Homo sapiens: one gene and its partners. The protein of the gene in region 2 interacts with the protein of the main gene of each other region in a pairwise test. Each region holds a gene or a part of one and is shown on either strand. Other genes may lie near its edges. The genes, in order: ALG13, QKI and PSMF1.

What was found.
Region 1: the proteins of QKI (region 2) and ALG13 interact in a two-hybrid assay, tested with the Homo sapiens proteins (one large-scale study listed by BioGRID).
Region 3: the proteins of QKI (region 2) and PSMF1 interact in a two-hybrid assay, tested with the Homo sapiens proteins (one large-scale study listed by BioGRID and IntAct).

Annotation. Positions count from the first base shown.
Region 1 is NC_000023.11:111,729,604-111,733,258, reverse strand, and holds part of ALG13 (UDP-N-acetylglucosamine transferase subunit ALG13), read right to left. Parts: intron 2,865-3,655; coding exon 2,832-2,864; intron 2,735-2,831; coding exon 2,679-2,734; intron 1-2,678. UniProt on the Homo sapiens protein: Catalytic subunit of the UDP-N-acetylglucosamine transferase complex that operates in the biosynthetic pathway of dolichol-linked oligosaccharides, the glycan precursors employed in protein asparagine (N)-glycosylation.
Region 2 is NC_000006.12:163,529,598-163,533,252, reverse strand, and holds part of QKI (KH domain-containing RNA-binding protein QKI), read right to left. Parts: intron 1-3,655. UniProt on the Homo sapiens protein: RNA reader protein, which recognizes and binds specific RNAs, thereby regulating RNA metabolic processes, such as pre-mRNA splicing, circular RNA (circRNA) formation, mRNA export, mRNA stability and/or translation.
Region 3 is NC_000020.11:1,121,532-1,125,186, reverse strand, and holds part of PSMF1 (proteasome inhibitor PI31 subunit), read right to left. Parts: intron 1-3,655. UniProt on the Homo sapiens protein: Plays an important role in control of proteasome function. Inhibits the hydrolysis of protein and peptide substrates by the 20S proteasome. Also inhibits the activation of the proteasome by the proteasome regulatory proteins PA700 and PA28.

The DNA of each region.
Region 1 (3,655 bases), on a different chromosome or scaffold from region 2:
TTACAGTGGTACACTGCTCAAGTGATGGGTGCACTGAAATCTCAGAAGTCATCACTAAAGAACTTATTCATTGTAACCAACCACCACCTGTTCTCCAAAAAACCTATTGAAATTAAAAATTAAAGACAAAGAGTTTTTTTTTAATGTATGCTGATAATTCTGAAGACATTTATCCTTTATTTTAGCAACAATAGAAATTTGCTATGGATTTGGTGATGGGGGCAGAGGGCTTGGAACATATGAAGAGATTGAAAGCTATTGAGGTTGTTTAAATTCAGAACAAAAAGGAACATGTGACAAGTGAAATTGAAGGAACAGAAAAAAAGTATTCTTGTCATCCCTTGTGGTAAGATTCTTACTTGGCTACTTCAAGAGGTGATATCAAAAGCACATGATATGAGAATAGTAATGGTGGCAGGAAATGGGGGAAAAAACTTTCTCTGGAAGGAGCAAAGTAAGGGAAGGAGAAAGAACAGAAAGAGAATTACGTATCAGAGTTTTCTTCTCCTTCCTAAGGTATATTGTCTAAACAGTAAAAACAAAAATTTAGTACATGAAGCTGCCACAGTTTAGTCATAATTAGAGAATATAAGGTAGTTATTCAAGTTCTTCATAAATATTCCAGATTTCCTGAATAGATGGTAGGATTGCCCTTCCCAGCTCCATCCAAAGTCAAGAATGACCATGTTACTTGGTCAATAAAATATGACCAGAAATGTCAGTGTTCAATTTCTGTATCTTTTGCCCTGCTGTGATGATCATGATGGCATGTGTCCATCAGCCTGGGTCCCTGGGTGACTATGAAGAACAGTCATAGTCTGGCAGCCTGCTGCCAACTCGCATTGAACTATATAACATTAGCAAGAACAACTTTTCCTGAGTTAAGCCACTGAGATTTTGGGGGGTTGTTAACTGCAGCATAACCTAGCTTGACTAAAACAGAAATTGGTAACTAGAAGTAGGGTACGGCTATAACAAAATCCTAATTGAGAAGGAGATTATGAACATGTAGCTCTTAGGGTAAGCAATTTAGAAGACATGATGTTAGTATTGTGCTTTGATAACTGTTGGCATTGTCTAAAGCAAGTTATTTTAAGACAGGTGTATGTAGGAGAGAATTAGTAGTTTGCAGGCAGGAATGAAAGGGAATAGATTCCTTGCATACAGGGACTCACAGGGTTGAAGGAACAACTGTTTCAACCCTAAACTATAAAAGGTAATATTGATGAATGGTTTGAACAACGACAAACAGTGAAAACTCGACCTCGCAGCAAGAATGAACTCTTTGGTTAAAACCCGAGTGTATTAAGATGTCTCAAAGCTAGAGTTCAACTAAGGATGTAACACCTAGTAAATCCTTGCACTTCAACAAAATGGCTTGTAGAAAAATGTCCAAAATGCATGGCTCTTCCATCAGTGCCTGATAAACTCAAGCCACTTGCAATCAAATAGACAGAAATATAAGGATAAAACCACAAAGAATTATAGCAAATCTTAGTAGTATATCTATAGAAAAGAACTGTAGTATGGCTATTGGTACATGAAACCAAAAGAAATCAAACAGAAGCAGAATAAATTAATCTTACAGCCAAAGAAATCACGAGCCAGAACTAAAACCATTCAACTGAGATAAAACCACCCTTGGGCCTCCAATCTTCTGTAAGTAGCAAGCTTAGAAAGCTGCTCGGTTGCCAAGGAAGGATTATTCTCCAATGCCTACTCCAAACACTGCCAAGGAAGGATGGGCCTTGGGAGTAACCAAGAGCCCCAGAAAATGAACGAGAGTTCCTCCAGGGAAGAGTCCCATGAGTATGTTGGGGGCCCTTACAACGTCTGCCCATGAAGGTCTCAGAATTGCTACAGGCCAATAACTGTTTTTTTCTCCCTTTATGAATAGAAATTTCAGTCCCTGCTTCAGCACTGTAAACTGGGGAGGGAGGGGGAAAAAATAAAACCTCTGTATTTTTGGTTTTAAGTCTCAAGATCACAAGAAGCTACATCTGGACCCAATATAACAAGTACTACACATAGCCCAGAAATCCTAGGCTTTGAGTTTGATTACACTGAATGGGACATTTTAGGATGCCTCCTTTGAGACAGAAACAAGTATTCTGCCTATGAGAGGGAGGGCAAGTTGAATGATATAGTTCTTAGCGCTGTTAACATGTTTCTTTTTGCCTTCCAGCACAGAAAAGTTAAGACTCTTCAGTGGGACCTGCTCTGGCCAGTGAAATGGAAAAGAAAGTGACATGTATCACCTCTAGTGGAAACTCTAAGAGCCAGTGCACCATTTACCGAATTTTATTTCCTGCCTTGGCAATTGTGGATGAATTTCCATCAGCCTAAGTACCTGAGCAAGCCCTTCTACAGACCTCTACTAGACATGTAGCATAAAGGAGAAGCAAACTTTTGTTATATTGAGTGAGATGTATCATCCATTCTAATAAAAAAATCATAATAAAACCTTCTAAAAGATCATTACTGCCTATGTTAGAATATCTCTAAATATATTAGTTCCAGAACACGAGTTAATTTCTGTCTCAATTTCATCTTCAAAATGAGAATGATACTAAGCCTCACAGGGTTGTTCTGATTTAAATACATTTATATGTATAGCTCTTAACAGTGCCCTAGTACATAGTAGGAGCTATAACTCTTTGCTATTATTAAATACCTACCAAGTTTGCTGTAGATGCAGTTGTGCTATAAACACCTGAAGTTTCATAGTCTGGCTCTAGAGAATATAGCCAAAGTAAAAAATGAGCATTATTTTATAGCTTGAAATTCTATAAACAATGATGAATGCCAGATCACTTCTAGATCTTACTGACCTGCACGATAAAGATATTCTTCATGATATCGCCCTGGGGAAAAAAGACAAGACAGAAGAAATGTGTTTATATAGGTCTTTTTAGCTCAGCAGAGCCAAATGGCCAGCACTTGCTTTTTCCACCAGTTTTATGGTTATATGTTCAAAACTAAAATGCATACATCCTGAAAAGTGATATGAGCTTTCACACTAGTCAACAGATATTGAAGCCACAGACTAGCTGTAAGCTGTACAAATTTCTCCTCTGAAAATCCACTTAGCTCTTAGAGGTCAGGCAGAAGTGAAAACTCAGTTGTGTCCAATTTTTCCAGTGAGGCTACAGTGTGGTGATTAAGCACATAGGCTCTGGAGTGAGGACTGCCTAGATTTGAATTCTGATTAACTACATGACTTTAGGCAAGTTATTTAATCTCTGTGCCTCAATTCTTCACTGTAAAATGGAGTAACAGTACCTAGCTCATAGGCCTTTTGAGGATGGTTAATGGAAGTGAAAGTAACTTAGCATAGTGCTTTACACATACTAAATACTCAATGGTGTCTATAAAGTATGAGTATAATCCACTGTTTCCTTAGGTGGACATTAAGGGAACATGTATGCCTCATCTGTTTTTCAATCTGTTTCATGTAAGTAATACATGTAAAATGAGTGTGTCCTCAAAGGATGGCTCAGTAGACTGAAGTACTTTTAAGATTTCTGTACCACTGAAATGCAGAGAAAGTCAATACTCAATCGGACAGTTTTCCACCAAATATAAACCCGCAGTTCTAAACTAAATTTGATTCTTAAACACACCACTTATCAAACACACACGCATGAAACTCCTC
Region 2 (3,655 bases):
TCTAACTGTGGCAAGAAAAATTAGTTTTGTTATCCAGATTTCAATTGTTATGTTCAAGAATGCTAACAGTATTTTCTCACCAAAATTTGTATTTTTTATTTATCTTTTTTTTTTTGGAGAGAGACCTACAAAAGCTACTAGTCTGGTATTATTTGGTGGGCCTAAAAGTGCACCTATTTGACTAAACGCATATATATGAGGGACTTCTGTTTCCAGGCAAGATATAGTAACAGGAACCAGATTCACCTTCCTGCTGAAACAACCAAAAAACTGGCAAAACGTATCAACAAGTTTCAAGCCACTGGACATCAGACAACTAAGGACAAATGACACAGAGTTGGGAACAACTGAGGTGAGCCTATAACTGCCCCCACTCACTGGCTTGAGAGTCTCCAGACAACTCCATGAGGAGACTAAGCAAGAGTCCAGGGAAACCGAGGCAGCCAAAGCTCAGAGAGTCCTGGGAGAGCTGCCACTCAAATATTCAGCTGAACCCTGATCGTTGCATACTTGAGAGAAAATTCCAGAGGCCAGGGAAGGAACCACCCAAAAGGATTCCAGGTCAAAGTGCCTGGCTCTAGAAAAGAACAAGACTGAAAGACTTGAAGGATTCCCCACGGGTAAGGGACACAGAAAGGTCTTGCCTCAGTGGTAGGAAAAAACTAAACCTAATCTAAGCATTGTTCCAGTACAACTAAATACATTTTAAAAGTAAGACCAAATGCCTTAAATTATTTCCAACTAACTTAACTGTGTCCCAGGACAAAGCTCAAAGATATTTATAGGAATATAAAAATATCCACCCAACAAGGTAAAAGTCTGGCATACAATTAGAAATTAACGGGCATGCAAAGCAGCAAGAAAAATGCAATACATGAGACCACCTCCCCCCCAATCAATTCACTCAAACCAATCTAGAAGTGATACAGATGTTATTATAAATAGACAAAGACATTAAAAGCTCTATGTGTGTGTGTCAAACACTAATGCATATAGATACTAATACAATGAAAACTGAGGAACATTTATAATCAAATATTTTTGAGAAAAGCTTAAGAATAAAAACTAAAATTTGACTTGCCGCAGAAACCTCTATACATGGAGAAAAGCCAGAGAATTTAAAAGGAATAATTATTTTCATGATAGAAACAAAGTTGCAGTATTATTTGCCATTTTGCTTTATTGCAAGAATACATTTTTAAGGTGTAAAACACTTGGCCAATGCGTACTCTTACTAATTCAACAACTTAAATGATAGTTAAAAATATAAAAATAGGAGAAAGCTACATCTACCCTGTTTGCTTCAAAATCAACATTTTTGCTTACACTTTTAAAAACAATTGAAGGAGCAAAAATTTTCAAAGATGGAGAAATTAATGGAATGGTGTACTTACACTCCCACCAAAAATTCTTCTACAACACTGCAGAGTTTAAAATGTACAAACTCAGCCGGGCACAGTGGCTCATGCCTGTAATCCCAGCACTTTGGGGGGGCCGAGGCAGGAAGACTGCTTGAGCCCAGGAGTTCAAGGCCAGCCTGGGGAACAGTCAGACCCTGTGTCTATTATAAATAAATAAATAAAATGTCCAAACTCGTAAGAAGTAAGAAAATGGGAAAGGAAACCATTTAAAAATTAAGAATCTAGAAAGCAGATGGTTAACTTAAAATTTACCTGACTCTAGTTAAGAAAGAAACTTATTTCCTTGCAATCCACCCCAAAAATACTGAGGAAATGGGCAGCAGTGAAAACAGGGGTGAGGGTGGGGCTGAGATTGCAGGACTAGATGAACTCTCATTAAAAAGCAGTTCAATTCCCATATCCCCTGTCCACAAATGGCTAGCTATCAAGCACTCCCTAATTCCCAGCAGTAGACCAGAAACTGATTCTGAAAGGAAGTAAAACACTTGCTCAAACTGCATTAGGAGAACAGTTGACAGGGTAACTTCCACTCTGACAGCTGGGCTGGCCGGCCATCTCCCCTGCTCCAAATGCAGAGCAAGGGAACCCAGGCCCACATCTTGGGGACAGGAGACTTGAACAACTGACCCTTCAGAGAGTTAATAAAAGACGCTACAATGCTGAAACAAGAATGCTCTATTTAAAAATTTTGAATACAAATAGAAACTCCTGCAACTAAAAACATGAGAGCAAAGATGAAAAATTTGATAGAAGGTTGGAAGACAAACTGAGGAACTCTCCAAGTAGCAAAAGACAGAGATAAAAAAAAATGGTGCAGAACTGTATAATATTAGAGGACTAGTCCAAGAGGTTCAGAAACTGAAATGACGATGTCCAACTACCAATATAAAGAAAAAGAAAGCAGAGGGAGAAAAATCATCAATGTTATATATTTTTCGCAAAACTGAGGGATCTGAGGTTCCAGATGAAAAGGACCCACTGAGTTTTCACCACAAGGAATAAATGAAGCGGACACTTCAAAATCAAACAATGTAGCAATTGAAAGTAAACACTAAAAGCACCTCTTTTAGTGTTTTGGAGGGGGTGCAGTGTGAAGAGAGAGACCGACCAACCCGTTTTCCACATCAGGCCTCAGAAAATCTTTCATCCATGTGCATATCAAATGTCACACAAAAAAAGGCTTTGAGGTCATGCTACGCAGAAGCCATGAAGCCATATTCATTCTACTGTAGTCCATTCCAGCTCAAGAAGAGTTAAATTCCTTCAGTGAGTTTGCAGCTTAGTAATTATTTAATACAAATACTATTTCTCCCTGTGATCTCATTCTGTTTCTTAAGCAGATTATAAAGGCAATCTGGGATTGGCAAATTTTATAGAGAAATCAATAAAACACACCCCAAAAGGTCCTCTTTTAGTCATTAAGGATAGATGCAATTATAGGATGGTTACTTCTGAACTTAAAATATCCATAGTAAGAATCCACTCACAAAACCCATTTTCTCACTTAAATACATCAGGACAAAGAAAAGGTTGAAATAAGCAGACAGGAGGGATGATGATATGGACGCACACCAAAAATGCTGTATTTATTAGAAACTGTGTTCTACGAGGCATTCGTTTCTTTTTACAATTATGTTTCAAACAATCTTTCAGGGGTTAATAGCTGAGATACTGATGTGGAAAAAAATAGCTCATGACTACTATAATGTCTGTTTTACAGTTACCATTTGCAATATCATTTCATAATATATGTGCTACTAAATCTTCAGCAACATAGAAGAACACAGTTTTGCATCAATATAATCCCAAATTTACATTTTCCAGCACAGTACTGCCCCCTGATTTCTAGACCTCCAAATTCAACTGCCAACTAGAAATGTATACTTCAATCTCTAAAGCAGTCTGAACTCCACATGTCCAAACTGGGGTTCATACCTCCCTGCTGCAAATCTGTCCACAATTAATGTCTCAGCTATTACTCATCCTGAATGAATTTTCTGAATCAGCGTGGATTTTTAGAATTTGAGGCTTTGTAGGAAATCTCTGAAACACAGTCATGGCTTACTTGTGCTTTGACAGAGACTGGCTGCTGCACATGCACCCATTCACATCTATCCACACTAATCTGAAGTGCCGTGTTCATTCACTTCCCACGATAGGCTCAGATTTACTCCATGCTGTATTACTGGCCATTCCCCAAACATGGATTTTGACACCCATAAGTTTATGGAAGC
Region 3 (3,655 bases), on a different chromosome or scaffold from region 2:
TCTTGAGGAACACTGCGAAGTTCTAAGTAGTGTTTTTCAAAGTTTGGACGTTAGGCTAACTTCAATAGGATTACCAAGGTGTTGACTAAAAACACAGATCCGAATACACGCTAACTGACTGCAGTGATGTACAAAAATTATAATTTCATAATACACAAAATGTAGCACATGTACAAATAACAAAGAATTATAAAATGTCTCTACCACCAGCTTAAGAAATAGAACATCAGCAATACTGCTAAAGCCTTGGGTAGCATACTCCAATAAATGTCCCTCCTTCCCCTTCAAGGGTAATCACCACTCTTAAACAATTTCTTTACTTTTCCTTAGAGTTATATTACTATACATGCAACCATAAAAATATAGCTTCAAATGTTTTTGAATTTTAAATACACAGCATCACTTCCGTCATTTGCCTTTTTTATTTGATAGTTTTTGGAAATGTATCCATGTCAATGCATTTAACTACAGCTGATTCACATTCACAGCTACACAGCATTCTGTATGACTATGCTGCAATTTATACATCTACTTGTTGATGGTGATTTGGAGTATTTCCAGCTTATTTGTTTTGCTATTATAAACAATGCTGCTATGAACATTCTTGTACACATCTGGTACACGTGGATAAATTTCTATACAGTATGCATGGAGGAAAAGCTTTTAATTTATAAGATAAAGTCAAGTTGTTTTCTAAAGAGTTACTGATTTATACTCCCACTAGCAATGTATGAAAGCTCCTGTTGCTCCGTGTAGTTGGCAACATTGCTATTATTGCTTGCCAATCTAGTAGGGGTAAAATGCTTGCCATTTTCATGCTTGTCAGCCTGGTGGGTGTAAAATACATCTTTTATTGTGAGTTGTGATGTCTTCCTCTTTTCTTTTTTAAAAATCCTAAGACTTTCCATACTAAAGTTTGAGAAATAGTTCTCAAATTATTTCTACAGGAAAAATAATATAGTGATTTCTAGGTGGGGAAGATTTCTTAAACAAGATCCATAAAAGAAAATGCTGCCTTTGACACTGTTCATAATTGAAAGCTTCTGTTCTACAGAGACACTACTAAATTAATAAGGAGCCACAGGCTAGGAAGAGACATTTGCCATGGCTGCAAAGGAAAGAAATTAATAACCTCTACATAAAGGGAATGCCTGGAAAATGAACAATAACAATTGGGAACTCCAAAAAGTGGCAAAAGATATGAACAAGAAAAAGAGCGGCTAATAGTGTCTAAAGAGTTATTCAATTTTACTAGCAATCAGAGAAGCAGAACTGAAATAATGAGACACTAAGTTACATGATTCGGACTGTTATTACCCAGTTTTCTATTTTTTGCCAGATGTCTGTGTAGGTGTGGGGAGAATGGGAACCTCCAGTCCCTGCTGGTGGGCATTTAAACTTGCACAGCCCCTTCGGGGAGCAATCTGACAGTTTTTAGTGCAATTAGATGAGCCAATATCCTATGATCCAAAATCCCTACTCCCAGAAGAAACCCTGTGCACAGGGTACATAACAAAGGATCTTCATTATAGCCTTGGCTAAGGTAGCAAAAGTGGAGATAAAATGCAAAATATGCTTATAGTGGAATACTATATAGCAGTCAGAAGGAATAAACCAGATCTAATGATAGTATTATATATAAAAGAAAAAATATGATTTAAAGAAAAGTTCCCCAAAAAATGAGGTTTACACTCCAGTACCACTTATGTAAAAATTTTAAAAAGCACAAAAAAATGCTATAATCTTTTTTCATGGATGTATATTTATATTGCTCACCATGGGGCAGGTGGACTGGGAAGATCTGTAGTCATGAGAATACAGCGGGAGGGAGTGGGACCGGAGATGAAGAAAATGGAAAAGACAAAGGTCCAGCAAAGCAAAACTTCACACACCAAGGACAAGGGGAGACCACACATTGAGAATTGCTGGCCTCTCCTGTTTCGTCACCCCTGGTGCTCAGAAATCCTCTGGGGAAAGAGATCCCAAATAAAATTCAGGATGTCGCAACTGTCATGGTTTAAAACCTGGCTGGATGACAATGAAATTCATAGGCCTGAAGCATAGAAATGAGAGTGAGGAAAAACAAAAGTAAAACTAATCAAACCATTCTTCTGCGAAAAAGAAACTATCCCCTCACCCCAAACTGGGTAAATTTCCCGAATATGTTTAGTGTTTAGTGTCGTGGATTTGTTTACTTTGGAAGCCAGGAATTTGATGACATCCTCATCTTTGCTCTGGCAAACGCCTTTAAATTTATATTATATCCTCCATGTACAGCATTCAATCCACCAGAGTTCTCTCTTGGAATATAAACAATTTGGTCTGCTCACCACCCCATCACCTTTGGCTTCCAGAGTTACAGAAAATCCCTGAAGTCAGGTGAAACTGATATCTCTAACTGCAGTGCAATTGATGTTCCCCAGTAAACAGAGGACAGACCCTGGCGATATCAGGCCAAACATGGTCTGCAACTGCCCTGTAAACCCTGACATCAAATATCAAGAGTCCCAGAAAGCCACAGTTGGAAAGTAGCCTAAGTACACAGTCACGTGGTTTAACTTCCTCTGATGAAAAATCAAAGGCCTGAGGCTGAGCGCGGTGGCTCTTGCCTGTAATCCCAGCCCTTTGGGAGGCAGAGGCAGGCAGATCACTTGCATTCAGGAGTTCGAGACCAGCCTGGCAAACATGGTGAAACCCTGTCTCTACTAAAAATACAAAAAAAATTAGCCAGGCATGGTGGCGGGGACCTGTAATCCCAGCTACTGAGGATGCTGGGGCAGAATTGCCTGAACCCAGGAGGCAGAGGTTACAGTGAGCCAAGATAGCACCACTGCACTCTAGCCTGAGTGACAGAGTGAGACATCTCGGATTAAAAAAAAAAAAAAAAAAAAGAAAAGAAAAAGAAAAAGAAAAGAAAACTCTAAGGCCTGAGATGGTCAGAGAGCTGCCCAAGGTCTCAGCAAGTCAGGTGTAGGGCTGTGCTTGGAATTCAGAGCTCCTGATTGCCCAGGCTATGGCTAGAGAAGGTTTTTCCCAGCCAGGTCCACAAGACTGGCCCTAAGAGAATAAAGATAATTGTCTTCTTAGGCAAAATCCTGGCACTGGAAGCATTCTTTAATGGCCATGAATTTGCCCCAATGCCTCTGAACTAAAATTCACCCAAAGAAACTTAAACAGATCATTTTGGGCATTTTCTCTCTTTCATCATAATCCTTAGATTTCCCACAACAGAAAACAAAATTCTCTAACTTATGTCGATAACCACCTAAGTCATCCCTTACCTATCCCCTTGGCACCCAAACCACTTGACAAAGCTGTAAAGTTCTTGTGAGGAGTGGTTCTGACTTCAAGAAAGAAATCCAAATTCAAGTATTGGATTTTTGTTGAAGCCAGTGGCTGCACTGGTTTTCTAATCAAGTTTTATGTACACAATTCCCCTGTAACAGAGGAAGCAAAACCTAAGAGAAAGCAGACAATCTAGCTTTCCATTTAACTGTCAACTTGTATAGTCAAGCATACACTCTTGGGACCTTCCTCTCCTTCTTATCACCCCCAGAAGGGTGGAAACAGCAGATGGCTGGAGAGGCAACACAAATATCCTCTGAGCTTGGAAAACACAATTGAGTCAGCTGAGTTGGCTGGCCCCAGGCTGAAA